Linked DNA regions of Homo sapiens. The protein of the gene in region 1 purifies or fractionates together with the protein of each later gene. This does not show direct contact. Each region holds a gene or a part of one and is shown in the gene's direction. Other genes may lie near its edges. The genes, in order: F13B, ALB, FGG and FGB.

What was found.
Region 2: the proteins of F13B (region 1) and ALB purify together in Homo sapiens (co-immunoprecipitation; one study listed by IntAct). This does not show direct contact.
Region 3: the proteins of F13B (region 1) and FGG purify together in Homo sapiens (co-purification; 2 studies listed by BioGRID and IntAct, with this or other methods). This does not show direct contact.
Region 4: the proteins of F13B (region 1) and FGB purify together in Homo sapiens (co-immunoprecipitation; one study listed by IntAct). This does not show direct contact.

The regions. Positions count from the first base shown.
Region 1 is NC_000001.11:197,057,085-197,061,436, reverse strand, and holds part of F13B (coagulation factor XIII B chain precursor), read left to right. Parts: intron 1-361; coding exon 362-538; intron 539-894; coding exon 895-1,071; intron 1,072-3,971; coding exon 3,972-4,151; intron 4,152-4,238; coding exon 4,239-4,352. UniProt on the Homo sapiens protein: The B chain of factor XIII is not catalytically active, but is thought to stabilize the A subunits and regulate the rate of transglutaminase formation by thrombin.
Region 2 is NC_000004.12:73,417,771-73,422,122, forward strand, and holds the end of ALB (albumin preproprotein), read left to right. Parts: intron 1-317; coding exon 318-541; intron 542-1,736; coding exon 1,737-1,869; intron 1,870-2,483; coding exon 2,484-2,528; 3' UTR 2,529-2,551; intron 2,552-3,321; 3' UTR 3,322-3,712; downstream 3,713-4,352. UniProt on the Homo sapiens protein: Binds water, Ca(2+), Na(+), K(+), fatty acids, hormones, bilirubin and drugs. Its main function is the regulation of the colloidal osmotic pressure of blood. Major zinc transporter in plasma, typically binds about 80% of all plasma zinc.
Region 3 is NC_000004.12:154,606,357-154,610,201, reverse strand, and holds part of FGG (fibrinogen gamma chain isoform gamma-B precursor), read left to right. Parts: intron 1-4; coding exon 5-135; intron 136-438; coding exon 439-572; intron 573-1,551; coding exon 1,552-1,736; intron 1,737-3,219; coding exon 3,220-3,497; intron 3,498-3,845. UniProt on the Homo sapiens protein: Together with fibrinogen alpha (FGA) and fibrinogen beta (FGB), polymerizes to form an insoluble fibrin matrix. Has a major function in hemostasis as one of the primary components of blood clots.
Region 4 is NC_000004.12:154,569,511-154,573,862, forward strand, and holds the end of FGB (fibrinogen beta chain isoform 1 preproprotein), read left to right. Parts: intron 1-3; coding exon 4-289; intron 290-908; coding exon 909-1,140; 3' UTR 1,141-3,297; downstream 3,298-4,352. UniProt on the Homo sapiens protein: Cleaved by the protease thrombin to yield monomers which, together with fibrinogen alpha (FGA) and fibrinogen gamma (FGG), polymerize to form an insoluble fibrin matrix. Fibrin has a major function in hemostasis as one of the primary components of blood clots.

The DNA.
Region 1 (4,352 bases):
ATACTTAAAAATAGTTCAATAATTTAAATATATGTATACTTTGTTAGTAAGTTGTTTAAATTGTAAAAATGCATAGACAGCACATACTTTCACAATTGCTACTGCACAAGCCTTTAGTTGAATTTTGGCCTTTGGTCAAGCACTTGTAGACTAGAATTTTAAAAACAGAAAACTGGTAGAGTTAGGTCACAAGGTGTATGAAGAAGAGAATAGAGGCAAAGAAAAATTGGGGCTATTTTTCAATTTTGCTAAGAGTTGATTTTACCATGTATTCTTAAGATTTGTAAAACCATATTTTGAGATTTTTTATAATCTAGGTTATTAAAAAAGTTTATAAAATAAATAATTTTTATAATTTTAGAAACATGTTTGGCTCCTGAATTATATAATGGAAATTATTCCACAACACAGAAAACATTCAAAGTGAAGGACAAAGTACAATACGAATGTGCTACTGGCTACTACACAGCTGGAGGAAAGAAGACAGAGGAGGTAGAATGTCTCACATACGGATGGTCTCTCACACCAAAATGTACCAGTAGGTTCTCATTTGGAATAAAATCTACTCTCACTCTGAAAGCTTTTTCTCATAGAGAAGTGTATATAAGTTGTCATGCTCATTATGTTTCACCTTTTCATGCATTTTTGCCTTTATTTTTAATTATGTTGATAGCAGTCTTTGATAATTAAAGCTCTCAAGTAGAATAAATTCATTTTAGCTCACAGAATTAAATTAGAATAAGCCTAATGATATTTAACAAATATATAAAATGAATTCATAAGCTTTTTGGCAAATTTAATTTCTATTCTAGTTATGTCATGTAAATAGTGCATTTTGTTGTAGCAGAAAAAATAAACATTTGTTTGTAATTTTATTCATTCTTTTATTTGCAGAATTAAAGTGCTCTTCTTTAAGATTAATTGAAAATGGTTATTTTCATCCTGTAAAGCAAACCTATGAAGAAGGAGATGTCGTTCAGTTTTTCTGTCATGAAAATTATTATCTAAGTGGATCTGATTTAATTCAATGCTATAACTTTGGTTGGTACCCAGAATCTCCTGTATGCGAAGGTAAATTTTTAAATTTAATACTCGCAAAATGCCATGTCTTTATCAGCTTTAATCTCTATTAGCTCTGACAAAATTCCTGTGGTCATATCTATTTTTTTTCCTGAGTCCTATTTTTAAAATAAATATTATCTTTTAAATCAGTGCTATTTTCAGCAATCTTTAATATATCCCACCTGAATAAATCTTGTTTTGTCTTAGTTTGTAAATGACTATATCTTTTAAATTTATTATTTTAAAATATCTATTATACATTTTAAATCCCTTATTATAACGAATAACTTTTCTTATTGGGAATTATTAGGACTAATTACCCCAATCTGGCAGCTTTGCAAGGATATTTTCTCTTAATTTGCCACATATTTCCAGATGTAAAAATTAATCTCCAAAATAGTGAGGTAGAAAGCAGAGAAAGCAGGAAAAGCAGAAGAATAATGCCCAGAAGTGAAAATGGGAAAAGAGGTCATCTTGTAAAAGCTGCCCAAAAATGTAATATCTATGGTCACATTTCTATTACTGGAAGTGTCCAAACAGGTAATGCAATTACCTGTCAGAAGACATCCATAGTTATTTAAACAAACCTACAATTTAATATGAGGAGGGTCCTATACTAGCAGAAGATATGAAAACAGTAATTGCAGATATGAAAAAAATAATTGCTATAATGTGACAAATGGTACAATCAACTCAGGTACAAAGTGCAGGAATAAACATTAGAGATTCTGATTGGTATGCTGTGGAATAGCATTCACAGAAGTGATGGACAATATTTAAGTTGGGTCTTAAGAGATAAGTAGCAGTTTGAGAATTGGGAGGATAGGGTGAGGCAAAGGGTTTGATAGTCATTTTTTATTTTCTGTAATATGGGATATAAGGTCTATTGACAGGCAGGTGAAAGACATGAAGGTAGAACTTGGAGGAAAGTGGTGAAGATTTGAAACAGGTGCTAGGGGAAACAAATGAGGGCTCTGACCATGGGTATGCAGTGGGATTGCCAGAACTATCATAATTCCCTAAATGCACTGTACAGTAACTTTAAAGATTTTATGATTTTTCATTTGTGCTCGACATCCTTGGTATAGTAGTAGAGAAGTAGATTTTTTAAGCAAATTTTTTTAAAGTCTATTATTCCTTATTTATTTTTTATTTTTTTGAGATGGAGTCCTGCTGTGTCGCCTAAGCTAGAGTGCAGTGGCACGATCTCAGCTCACTGCAACCTCCACCTCCCAGGTTCAAGTGATTCTCCTGCCTCAGCCTCCTGAGTAGCTGGGACTACAGGTGTCGGCCACCATGCCCAGCTAATTTTTTTGTGTTTTTAGTAGAGACAGGGTTTTGCCACGTTGGTCAGGCTGGTCTTGAACTCCTGACCTCAGGTGATCAGCCTGCCTCAGCCTCTCAAAGTGCTACTTCAAAAATAAATGGCAGACCTACTTAAGGCCTTTTATACCCTTCTCCTCTTCCAAATTAGCCAGCATGACAACATGCCTGTTTTTTCCGGTAAACAGTCATTAGGCATACAATGGCTAATATAATTCAGCCCACAACAATATAATTCAGTTGTGGGCTGAATTATATCTCTCTTACTCCTCCCAAAATATAGCCACATTCTAATACTGAGAACCATTAAACGTTACCTTACACGGTACAAGACACTTTGAGGTTAACAATCTTAAGGTAGGAATATTATCTGGAACTATCTATCCAGACTCTAAATATAATCACAAATGCTTTTATAAAAGGGAGGCAGAGGGAGATTGACTGCAGAAGAGGAAGCAGGAGATGTGACAATGGAAGCCACAGGTTGAAATGTTTTGAGGAAGGGGTTGTGAGCCAAGGAATACAGGTGATTTCAAGAAGCTAGAAAAGGCAAAGTAGCTGATTCTCCTCCAAAGTCTCCAGCAGGAATGTGGCTCTCCTGATATCTCGATTTTAGTCCAGTGAAACTGACTCTGGACTTCTGGCCTCTAGGACTGTAGGAGGATAAATCTGTGCTGTTTTAAGCCACTAAATTGTAATTCATCAAAGCAGCAATAGGAAAGTAGTGTGGTCAGTATTTTAGAGCAGGAGACTTTAATTTAGACAGACGTGGGTTCAAGAACAGATCTGCTACATGCTATTAATTTATTTACTTCATAAGTTTTAGTTTGTCTATAACATGGGAGAAATAATAGTTCCTACTTAATAAAGTTATTTTAGGACTAAAAGAGGTAATGAATGTAAAATGCCTGCTGTGTTAGTATTCTATTGGTGCGTAACAATGTCACCACAAACTCAGCAGGTTAAAACAACACAAAGAAATTATTTCCCATTGGGTGTAGGTTGGGGGTCTGGGTGCGGCTTAACCGACTCCTTGCATCGATGGCTATCAAAGCTGCAATCAAGATGTTAGCTGGACTGCAGTCTCATCTGAGGCTTGACTGGGCAAGACTTCTTCCAAACTCACTGTAGTTATTGGCAGCATTCAGTGCTTTGCAGACTGCTGAACTGAGAGCCTCTGTTTCTTGTGGCTGTTAACTGAAGGCAGCCCTCTGCCCCTTGCCTTGCAGCCGTTCTGCTTTGGAAGCTCATGATGTAGCCTCTTGTTTCTTCAAAACCAGCAAGGATAGAGAGTCTCTTGGCAAGAATGGCGTTAAAAACTGATGTTACATAATTATGTGTGCATAATCACGTACTAATCCATCACCTTTGCTGTATTTTGTGGGCTAGAAGCAAGTCACAGGTCCTACTCATGGAAAGGGGTATCACACAAGGAAGTTAACATCAGGAGGTGAGGATCAAAGGAATGCTCCTAGAATCAGTCTGCCATTCTCTCTATGATGCTTGACATGATGAATATTTTAATTTAATCTTTATTATTTTTTGTAATTATATGACTAAAGGTGCTGATTAATTTTTTCCATAAGGAAGAAGAAACAGATGTCCTCCTCCACCTCTGCCCATAAACTCCAAAATTCAAACACATTCAACAACTTATCGTCATGGAGAAATAGTTCATATAGAATGTGAACTTAATTTTGAGATCCATGGGTCAGCAGAAATACGTTGTGAAGATGGAAAATGGACAGAACCTCCAAAATGCATTGGTTAGTAACACCTTGAAGAAGCTTTGCTAAAATGAAATCTGCATGTGTAGCTAAATGGTCAGTTCTCTTTCAACTGTACCTTTTCAGAAGGACAGGAGAAGGTAGCCTGTGAGGAACCACCCTTCATTGAAAATGGTGCAGCAAATTTACACTCTAAGATTTATTACAATGGGGATAAAGTGACATATGCATGTAAAAGCG
Region 2 (4,352 bases), on another chromosome or scaffold:
GTGCATGTTTGTGTGCATGTGTGTGTGCATGCACGTGTGTGTATGTGTGATATTGGCAGTCAAGGCCCCGAGGATGATAATTTTTTTTTTTTTTTTGAGACGGAGTCTCGCTTTGTTGTCCAGGCTGGAGTGCAGTGGTGCCATCTCGGCTCACTGCAACCTCCGCCTCCCAGGTTCAAGCCATTCTCCTGCCTCAGCCTCCCAAGTAGCTGGGACTACAGGTGCATGCCACCATGCCTGGCTAATTTTTTGTATTTTTAGTAGAAAATTTTCAGCTTCACCTCTTTTGAATTTCTGCTCTCCTGCCTGTTCTTTAGCTATCCGTGGTCCTGAACCAGTTATGTGTGTTGCATGAGAAAACGCCAGTAAGTGACAGAGTCACCAAATGCTGCACAGAATCCTTGGTGAACAGGCGACCATGCTTTTCAGCTCTGGAAGTCGATGAAACATACGTTCCCAAAGAGTTTAATGCTGAAACATTCACCTTCCATGCAGATATATGCACACTTTCTGAGAAGGAGAGACAAATCAAGAAACAAACGTGAGGAGTATTTCATTACTGCATGTGTTTGTAGTCTTGATAGCAAGAACTGTCAATTCAAGCTAGCAACTTTTTCCTGAAGTAGTGATTATATTTCTTAGAGGAAAGTATTGGAGTGTTGCCCTTATTATGCTGATAAGAGTACCCAGAATAAAATGAATAACTTTTTAAAGACAAAATCCTCTGTTATAATATTGCTAAAATTATTCAGAGTAATATTGTGGATTAAAGCCACAATAGAATAACATGTTAGGCCATATTCAGTAGAAAAAGATGAACAATTAACTGATAAATTTGTGCACATGGCAAATTAGTTAATGGGAACCATAGGAGAATTTATTTCTAGATGTAAATAATTATTTTAAGTTTGCCCTATGGTGGCCCCACACATGAGACAAACCCCCAAGATGTGACTTTTGAGAATGAGACTTGGATAAAAAACATGTAGAAATGCAAGCCCTGAAGCTCAACTCCCTATTGCTATCACAGGGGTTATAATTGCATAAAATTTAGCTATAGAAAGTTGCTGTCATCTCTTGTGGGCTGTAATCATCGTCTAGGCTTAAGAGTAATATTGCAAAACCTGTCATGCCCACACAAATCTCTCCCTGGCATTGTTGTCTTTGCAGATGTCAGTGAAAGAGAACCAGCAGCTCCCATGAGTTTGGATAGCCTTATTTTCTATAGCCTCCCCACTATTAGCTTTGAAGGGAGCAAAGTTTAAGAACCAAATATAAAGTTTCTCATCTTTATAGATGAGAAAAATTTTAAATAAAGTCCAAGATAATTAAATTTTTAAGGATCATTTTTAGCTCTTTAATAGCAATAAAACTCAATATGACATAATATGGCACTTCCAAAATCTGAATAATATATAATTGCAATGACATACTTCTTTTCAGAGATTTACTGAAAAGAAATTTGTTGACACTACATAACGTGATGAGTGGTTTATACTGATTGTTTCAGTTGGTCTTCCCACCAACTCCATGAAAGTGGATTTTATTATCCTCATCATGCAGATGAGAATATTGAGACTTATAGCGGTATGCCTGAGCCCCAAAGTACTCAGAGTTGCCTGGCTCCAAGATTTATAATCTTAAATGATGGGACTACCATCCTTACTCTCTCCATTTTTCTATACGTGAGTAATGTTTTTTCTGTTTTTTTTTTTTCTTTTTCCATTCAAACTCAGTGCACTTGTTGAGCTCGTGAAACACAAGCCCAAGGCAACAAAAGAGCAACTGAAAGCTGTTATGGATGATTTCGCAGCTTTTGTAGAGAAGTGCTGCAAGGCTGACGATAAGGAGACCTGCTTTGCCGAGGAGGTACTACAGTTCTCTTCATTTTAATATGTCCAGTATTCATTTTTGCATGTTTGGTTAGGCTAGGGCTTAGGGATTTATATATCAAAGGAGGCTTTGTACATGTGGGACAGGGATCTTATTTTACAAACAATTGTCTTACAAAATGAATAAAACAGCACTTTGTTTTTATCTCCTGCTCTATTGTGCCATACTGTTAAATGTTTATAATGCCTGTTCTGTTTCCAAATTTGTGATGCTTATGAATATTAATAGGAATATTTGTAAGGCCTGAAATATTTTGATCATGAAATCAAAACATTAATTTATTTAAACATTTACTTGAAATGTGGTGGTTTGTGATTTAGTTGATTTTATAGGCTAGTGGGAGAATTTACATTCAAATGTCTAAATCACTTAAAATTGCCCTTTATGGCCTGACAGTAACTTTTTTTTATTCATTTGGGGACAACTATGTCCGTGAGCTTCCGTCCAGAGATTATAGTAGTAAATTGTAATTAAAGGATATGATGCACGTGAAATCACTTTGCAATCATCAATAGCTTCATAAATGTTAATTTTGTATCCTAATAGTAATGCTAATATTTTCCTAACATCTGTCATGTCTTTGTGTTCAGGGTAAAAAACTTGTTGCTGCAAGTCAAGCTGCCTTAGGCTTATAACATCACATTTAAAAGCATCTCAGGTAACTATATTTTGAATTTTTTAAAAAAGTAACTATAATAGTTATTATTAAAATAGCAAAGATTGACCATTTCCAAGAGCCATATAGACCAGCACCGACCACTATTCTAAACTATTTATGTATGTAAATATTAGCTTTTAAAATTCTCAAAATAGTTGCTGAGTTGGGAACCACTATTATTTCTATTTTGTAGATGAGAAAATGAAGATAAACATCAAAGCATAGATTAAGTAATTTTCCAAAGGGTCAAAATTCAAAATTGAAACCAAAGTTTCAGTGTTGCCCATTGTCCTGTTCTGACTTATATGATGCGGTACACAGAGCCATCCAAGTAAGTGATGGCTCAGCAGTGGAATACTCTGGGAATTAGGCTGAACCACATGAAAGAGTGCTTTATAGGGCAAAAACAGTTGAATATCAGTGATTTCACATGGTTCAACCTAATAGTTCAACTCATCCTTTCCATTGGAGAATATGATGGATCTACCTTCTGTGAACTTTATAGTGAAGAATCTGCTATTACATTTCCAATTTGTCAACATGCTGAGCTTTAATAGGACTTATCTTCTTATGACAACATTTATTGGTGTGTCCCCTTGCCTAGCCCAACAGAAGAATTCAGCAGCCGTAAGTCTAGGACAGGCTTAAATTGTTTTCACTGGTGTAAATTGCAGAAAGATGATCTAAGTAATTTGGCATTTATTTTAATAGGTTTGAAAAACACATGCCATTTTACAAATAAGACTTATATTTGTCCTTTTGTTTTTCAGCCTACCATGAGAATAAGAGAAAGAAAATGAAGATCAAAAGCTTATTCATCTGTTTTTCTTTTTCGTTGGTGTAAAGCCAACACCCTGTCTAAAAAACATAAATTTCTTTAATCATTTTGCCTCTTTTCTCTGTGCTTCAATTAATAAAAAATGGAAAGAATCTAATAGAGTGGTACAGCACTGTTATTTTTCAAAGATGTGTTGCTATCCTGAAAATTCTGTAGGTTCTGTGGAAGTTCCAGTGTTCTCTCTTATTCCACTTCGGTAGAGGATTTCTAGTTTCTTGTGGGCTAATTAAATAAATCATTAATACTCTTCTAAGTTATGGATTATAAACATTCAAAATAATATTTTGACATTATGATAATTCTGAATAAAAGAACAAAAACCATGGTATAGGTAAGGAATATAAAACATGGCTTTTACCTTAGAAAAAACAATTCTAAAATTCATATGGAATCAAAAAAGAGCCTGCAGAACCAAAGTAAGACTAAGCAAAAAGAACAAATTACCTGATTTCAAACTACACTATAAGGCCATAGTCACCGAAACAGCAAGGTACTGGTATAAAAATAGGCACACAGACCAATGGAATAGAACAGAATAGAGAACCCAGAAATAAATCCACATACTTACAGCTAACTGATTTTAGACAAAGAAAACAAAAACATAAGGTGGGGAAAGGACAACTTTTTCAACAAATGGTGCTAGGATAATTGGCAAGCACATGTAGGAGACTGAAGCTAGATCCTCATCTCTCACCTTATACAAACATCAACTCAAGATGGATTAGGAACTTAAATCTAAGGCCTAAAACTATAAAAATTCTAGAAGATAACATTGGGAAAAACCCTTCTACATATAGGCTTAGGCAAGGATTTCATGACCAAGAACCCAAAACAAATACAATGAAAACAAAGATAAATTGCTGGGACTTCATTAAACTAAAGAGCTTTTGCATGGCATGGCAAAAGAAACAGTCAGCTGAGTAAACAGACAACCCACAGAGTGAGAAAAAAATCTTCACAATC
Region 3 (3,845 bases), on another chromosome or scaffold:
GTAGATATTTGCAGGAAATATATAATTCAAATAATCAAAAGATTGTTAACCTGAAAGAGAAGGTAGCCCAGCTTGAAGCACAGTGCCAGGAACCTTGCAAAGACACGGTGCAAATCCATGATATCACTGGGAAAGGTAACTGATGAAGGTTATATTGGGATTAGGTTCATCAAAGTAAGTAATGTAAAGGAGAAAGTATGTACTGGAAAGTATAGGAATAGTTTAGAAAGTGGCTACCCATTAAGTCTAAGAATTTCAGTTGTCTAGACCTTTCTTGAATAGCTAAAAAAAACAGTTTAAAAGGAATGCTGATGTGAAAAGTAAGAAAATTATTCTTGGAAAATGAATAGTTTACTACATGTTAAAAGCTATTTTTCAAGGCTGGCACAGTCTTACCTGCATTTCAAACCACAGTAAAAGTCGATTCTCCTTCTCTAGATTGTCAAGACATTGCCAATAAGGGAGCTAAACAGAGCGGGCTTTACTTTATTAAACCTCTGAAAGCTAACCAGCAATTCTTAGTCTACTGTGAAATCGATGGGTCTGGAAATGGATGGACTGTGTTTCAGAAGGTAATTTTTTCCCCACCATGTGTATTTAATAAATTCCTACATTGTTTCTGCCATATGGCAGATACTTTTCTAAGCACCTTGTGAACCGTAGCTCATTTAATCCTTGCAATAGCCCTAAGAGGAAGGTACTTCTGTTACTCCTATTTACAGAAAAGGAAACTGAGGCACACAAGGTTAAATAACTTGCCCAAGACCACATAACTAATAAGCAACAGAGTCAGCATTTGAACCTAGGCAGTATAGTTTCAGAGTTTGTGACTTGACTCTATATTGTACTGGCACTGACTTTGTAGATTCATGGTGGCACATAATCATAGTACCACAGTGACAAATAAAAAGAAGGAAACTCTTTTGTCAGGTAGGTCAAGACCTGAGGTTTCCCATCACAAGATGAGGAAGCCCAACACCACCCCCCACCACCCCACCACCATCACCACCCTTTCACACACCAGAGGATACACTTGGGCTGCTCCAAGACAAGGAACCTGTGTTGCATCTGCCACTTGCTGATACCCACTAGGAATCTTGGCTCCTTTACTTTCTGTTTACCTCCCACCACTGTTATAACTGTTTCTACAGGGGGCGCTCAGAGGGAATGAATGGTGGAAGCATTAGTTGCCAGACACCGATTGAGCAATGGGTTCCATCATAAGTGTAAGAATCAGTAATATCCAGCTAGAGTTCTGAAGTCGTCTAGGTGTCTTTTTAATATTACCACTCATTTAGAATTTATGATGTGCCAGAAACCCTCTTAAGTATTTCTCTTATATTCTCTCTCATGATCCTTGCAGCAACCCTAAGAAGTAACCATCATTTTTCCTATTTGATACATGAGGAAACTGAGGTAGCTTGGCCAAGATCACTTAGTTGGGAGTTGATAGAACCAGTGCTCTGTATTTTTGACAAAATGTTGACAGCATTCTCTTTACATGCATTGATAGTCTATTTTCTCCTTTTGCTCTTGCAAATGTGTAATTAGAGACTTGATGGCAGTGTAGATTTCAAGAAAAACTGGATTCAATATAAAGAAGGATTTGGACATCTGTCTCCTACTGGCACAACAGAATTTTGGCTGGGAAATGAGAAGATTCATTTGATAAGCACACAGTCTGCCATCCCATATGCATTAAGAGTGGAACTGGAAGACTGGAATGGCAGAACCAGGTACTGTTTTGAAATGACTTCCAACTTTTTATTGTAAAGATTGCCTGGAATGTGCACTTTCCAACTATCAATAGACAATGGCAAATGCAGCCTGACAAATGCAAACAGCACATCCAGCCACCATTTTCTCCAGGAGTCTGTTTGGTTCTTGGGCAATCCAAAAAGGTAAATTCTATTCAGGATGAATCTAAGTGTATTGGTACAATCTAATTACCCTGGAACCATTCAGAGTAATAGCTAATTACTGAACTTTTAATCAGTCCCAGGAATTGAGCATAAAATTATAATTTTATCTAGTCTAAATTACTATTTCATGAAGCAGGTATTATTATTAATCCCATTTTATAGATTAACTTGCTCAAAGTCACATTGCTGATAAGTGGTAGAGGTAGAATTCAGACTCAAGTAGTTTAACTTTAGAGCCTGTCCTCTTAACAACTATCCTGGTTGAAAAGCAAATACAGCCTCTTCAGACTTCTCAGTGCCTTGATGGCCATTTATTCTGTCAAATCATGAGCTACCCTAAAAGTAAACCAGCTAGCTCTTTTGATGATCTAGAGGCTTCTTTTTGCTTGAGATATTTGAAGGTTTTAAGCATTGTTACCTAATTAAAATGCAGAAAAATATCCAACCCTCTTGTTATGTATAAGGAATAGTGAAATATATTGTCTTCAAACACATGGACTTTTTTTTATTGCTTGGTTGGTTTTTAATCCAGAAAGTGCTATAGTCAGTAGACCTTCTTCTAGGAAAGGACCTTCCATTTCCCAGCCACTGGAGATTAGAAAATAAGCTAAATATTTTCTGGAAATTTCTGTTCATTCATTAAGGCCCATCCTTTCCCCCACTCTATAGAAGTGTTGTCCACTTGCACAATTTTTTCCAGGAAAGAATCTCTCTAACTCCTTCAGCTCACATGCTTTGGACCACACAGGGAAGACTTTGATTGTGTAATGCCCTCAGAAGCTCTCCTTCTTGCCACTACCACACTGATTTGAGGAAGAAAATCCCTTTAGCACCTAACCCTTCAGGTGCTATGAGTGGCTAATGGAACTGTACCTCCTTCAAGTTTTGTGCAATAATTAAGGGTCACTCACTGTCAGATACTTTCTGTGATCTATGATAATGTGTGTGCAACACATAACATTTCAATAAAAGTAGAAAATATGAAATTAGAGTCATCTACACATCTGGATTTGATCTTAGAATGAAACAAGCAAAAAAGCATCCAAGTGAGTGCAATTATTAGTTTTCAGAGATGCTTCAAAGGCTTCTAGGCCCATCCCGGGAAGTGTTAATGAGCTGTGGACTGGTTCACATATCTATTGCCTCTTGCCAGATTTGCAAAAAACTTCACTCAATGAGCAAATTTCAGCCTTAAGAAACAAAGTCAAAAATTCCAAGGAAGCATCCTACGAAAGAGGGAACTTCTGAGATCCCTGAGGAGGGTCAGCATGTGATGGTTGTATTTCCTTCTTCTCAGTACTGCAGACTATGCCATGTTCAAGGTGGGACCTGAAGCTGACAAGTACCGCCTAACATATGCCTACTTCGCTGGTGGGGATGCTGGAGATGCCTTTGATGGCTTTGATTTTGGCGATGATCCTAGTGACAAGTTTTTCACATCCCATAATGGCATGCAGTTCAGTACCTGGGACAATGACAATGATAAGTTTGAAGGCAACTGTGCTGAACAGGATGGATCTGGTTGGTGGATGAACAAGTGTCACGCTGGCCATCTCAATGGAGTTTATTACCAAGGTATGTTTTCCTTTCTTAGATTCCAAGTTAATGTATAGTGTATACTATTTTCATAAAAAATAATAAATAGATATGAAGAAATGAAGAATAATTTATAAAGATAGTAGGGATTTTATCATGTTCTTTATTTCAACTAAGTTCTTTGAAACTGGAAGTGGATAATACCAAGTTCATGCCTAAAATTAGCCCTTCTAAAGAAATCCACCTGCTGCAAAATATCCAGTAGTTTGGCATTATATGTGAAACTATCACCATCATAGCTGGCACTGTGGGTTGTGGGATCTCCTTTAGACATACAACATAAATGATCTGGATGGATTAACATTACTACATGGATGCTTGTTGACA
Region 4 (4,352 bases), on another chromosome or scaffold:
TAGGTGAATATTGGCTTGGAAATGATAAAATTAGCCAGCTTACCAGGATGGGACCCACAGAACTTTTGATAGAAATGGAGGACTGGAAAGGAGACAAAGTAAAGGCTCACTATGGAGGATTCACTGTACAGAATGAAGCCAACAAATACCAGATCTCAGTGAACAAATACAGAGGAACAGCCGGTAATGCCCTCATGGATGGAGCATCTCAGCTGATGGGAGAAAACAGGACCATGACCATTCACAACGGCATGTTCTTCAGCACGTATGACAGAGACAATGACGGCTGGTATGTGTGGCACTCTTTGCTCCTGCTTTAAAAATCACACTAATATCATTACTCAGAATCATTAACAATATTTTTAATAGCTACCACTTCCTGGGCACTTACTGTCAGCCACTGTCCTAAGCTCTTTATGCATCACTCGAAAGCATTTCAACTATAAGGTAGACATTCTTATTCTCATTTTACAGATGAGATTTAGAGAGATTACGTGATTTGTCCAATGTCACACAACTACCCAGAGATAAAACTAGAATTTGAGCACAGTTACTTTCTGAATAATGAGCATTTAGATAAATACCTATATCTCTATATTCTAAAGTGTGTGTGAAAACTTTCATTTTCATTTCCAGGGTTCTCTGATACTAAGGGTTGTAAAAGCTATTATTCCAGTATAAAGTAACAAACACAGTCCCTAGATGGATTGGCCACAAAGGCCCAGTTATCTCTCTTTCTTGCTATAGGGCACAGGAGGTCTTTGGTGTATTAGTGTGACTCTATGTATAGCACCCAAAGGAAAGACTACTGTGCACACGAGTGTAGCAGTCTTTTATGGGTAATCTGCAAAACGTAACTTGACCACCGTAGTTCTGTTTCTAATAACGCCAAACACATTTTCTTTCAGGTTAACATCAGATCCCAGAAAACAGTGTTCTAAAGAAGACGGTGGTGGATGGTGGTATAATAGATGTCATGCAGCCAATCCAAACGGCAGATACTACTGGGGTGGACAGTACACCTGGGACATGGCAAAGCATGGCACAGATGATGGTGTAGTATGGATGAATTGGAAGGGGTCATGGTACTCAATGAGGAAGATGAGTATGAAGATCAGGCCCTTCTTCCCACAGCAATAGTCCCCAATACGTAGATTTTTGCTCTTCTGTATGTGACAACATTTTTGTACATTATGTTATTGGAATTTTCTTTCATACATTATATTCCTCTAAAACTCTCAAGCAGACGTGAGTGTGACTTTTTGAAAAAAGTATAGGATAAATTACATTAAAATAGCACATGATTTTCTTTTGTTTTCTTCATTTCTCTTGCTCACCAAGAAGTAACAAAAGTATAGTTTTGACAGAGTTGGTGTTCATAATTTCAGTTCTAGTTGATTGCGAGAATTTTCAAATAAGGAAGAGGGGTCTTTTATCCTTGTCGTAGGAAAACCATGACGGAAAGGAAAAACTGATGTTTAAAAGTCCACTTTTAAAACTATATTTATTTATGTAGGATCTGTCAAAGAAAACTTCCAAAAAGATTTATTAATTAAACCAGACTCTGTTGCAATAAGTTAATGTTTTCTTGTTTTGTAATCCACACATTCAATGAGTTAGGCTTTGCACTTGTAAGGAAGGAGAAGCGTTCACAACCTCAAATAGCTAATAAACCGGTCTTGAATATTTGAAGATTTAAAATCTGACTCTAGGACGGGCACGGTGGCTCACGACTATAATCCCAACACTTTGGGAGGCTGAGGCGGGCGGTCACAAGGTCAGGAGTTCAAGACCAGCCTGACCAATATGGTGAAACCCCATCTCTACTAAAAATACAAAAATTAGCCAGGCGTGGTGGCAGGTGCCTGTAGTCCCAGCTACCTGTGAGGTGGAGATTGCATTGAGCCAAGATCTCAACACTGCACTCCAGCCTGGGCAACAGCGTGAGACTCCACCTCAAAAAAAAAAAAAAAAGAATCTGACTATATACCATGGAAAAGCCACCACTCTGCCACTTAAATAAACATCAGGATCAGAGATTCCAAGAGGACAATCTGCATCAAGTCTTCACCAAGTGTTTTTTAAGCGAAATAATGAAATAGGGAGCAGAATATGCCTGTTGCCCATAGAAACGAGGTCTATTCTTGTCCTCAATTAGGCTTTTTTTTCTTCATAGTTACACCAGAACTAAAGTAAAAGTGGTTTTTCTGTTCTTTCTACTTCTCCCCATGAAATGGGCATATCATCTCAACACTTCACTCCAAGTCGCCACGGGCAACCTTATGACCCTAGGTCCTCCACCCCTAATGTATCATCATTGCCACCCATTTTTATGGTACTTATTGTTCTTAAGCTTATCCTCTTAATCTTTTCATGTAAGCAAAGCTCATTAATTTCTGTCTTGGAAATGCTACTACTCTCTTTAATTACTCACCAAATCCAACTTTAACTTTTGACCTGGTTTCTCTGCCACAAGTTCTGTCCCACTGGAGCCCATACTCACCTACCGCTTTGCCATCACATTTAACAGAAAACTCTTATCAACTTACTTCCTGCTTAACATTAGCTCCTTCCTATCTATATCCAAATTTCTTAAATTCAAATTTTTTAGCTGGAGTAAAAATGGTCCCAGTACCATTTCCTGTTCCCTTCACTATAACCTACATTTTTGTCACATTAAGTTTTTCCCCATTCCAGGACAGGTCAGGCCCTTTAAAAATTTCAACAGCTTTATTGAGATATAATTGATATAATTTAAAAAATCCTGCACATGTGTCATGCTGGAGCCCTATTGATTCCAACAGGGATGGCGCCTTGTCCAAGAAGAGACCCAGAGCCAGTGAATGGGACATAGGGTTTATTTAGGACTTAAATACAGATGTGGTCCAGTGGCAGTGGGCTGGACAGGACCGCTACTATTTGTAAAGAGTATGTAGTTTATATAACATTTCTACTTAGCACTCTCCACTTAGCAACCTCCATTTAACCCAAAATAAAAGGCCTTGGTTCCTTGCACATCCTGAGTTCCAACGGACAGGCAGGGAGTTCAAGTGTCCTTCACAGATAAGAAGTGAATCTCTCTGGGTTGGCCATTCCCGGATTCCTTAGCTTAGACTCTGAACACATATTCTTCTTAGACCATACAGTCATTCTCAGGGTATGCTTGAGTTAATGCTGTCGGATGCATCTGTCATACAAAGTGTTTAACATATACGATTTCATGATTTTGGAAATATGCATACACCCATGATATCACTGGCACAGTCAAGATATTAAATATATCCATCACCTCCAAAAGTTTCCTTGTGTTCATTTATTTTAGTTTTTCATGGTAAGAACATTTAATATGAAATATTATCAACAAATTTTTAAGTGCACAATACTGTATTATTAATTTTAGGCATTATGTTGTACAGTAGATCTCTAGAACATATTCATCTACTAAAAATGAAATTTTATCTCCATTTCCCCCTACCTCCCATCCCCTGGCAACTACCATTCTATTTTCCACTTTGACTGTTTCAGATACCTCATATAAGTGAAATCACACAGTATCCTTTCGCACTGTTGTGGGGATGTAAAACGGTGCAGCTACCATGGGAAGAAATGTGGAGGCCCCTAAAAAATTTTTTAAAAAATTCTGATTATCATATGATCCAGCAATCTCACTTTTAGGCATATATCCAAAAGAACTGATATCAGGATCTGGAAGCAATATTTGTGCATCTGTGGTCATTGCAACATTATTCACAATGTTCAGGTCCTTTTATATGATGCCCTCATTGCAGCAATGTCTTCCTCCCAACACCATCTGACAAACTGCTATTTGTTTTTAAACCTCACTTTAACTGTCACCGCCCAGAGAAGACTTTCTAAAACCTTTGGGCAAATTTTATTACTTTTTGACAATGAATGCCTGAGGCTTATCCAGCTTTGATTCCAGAAACATCAGCCTGTCAGAATGGCTAATTTTCATGCATTTGTGAATGCTGGATGGCTAAATCCAGTGATTTTCAAAGTCTCGAACATCCTCTTTTTAAATGTAGAACCCATTTTCCAATAAAGCCACAAACAGAAACTCAACATGCAAAGTTCTTGAATATGGAACTTTTGGGGCAATACTGAGAGTCGCAAAAGTTCACTGAATGAAAAATGCGGGTTGGGAAGACTGCAGTCATCAGACCTTTGCTCACTCCTTACGTGTTCACAGAGGATCAAATGAATCCCTAGAGCTTGAAGTAATGCCATAGAAGAAAAACCACTAAAGTAGATAATCTGATGGTCAATTCTTAGTTAATGTACAAATAGAAAAAACACAGAGACCACTCCCAGGTAATATGTAAGTCTATCTA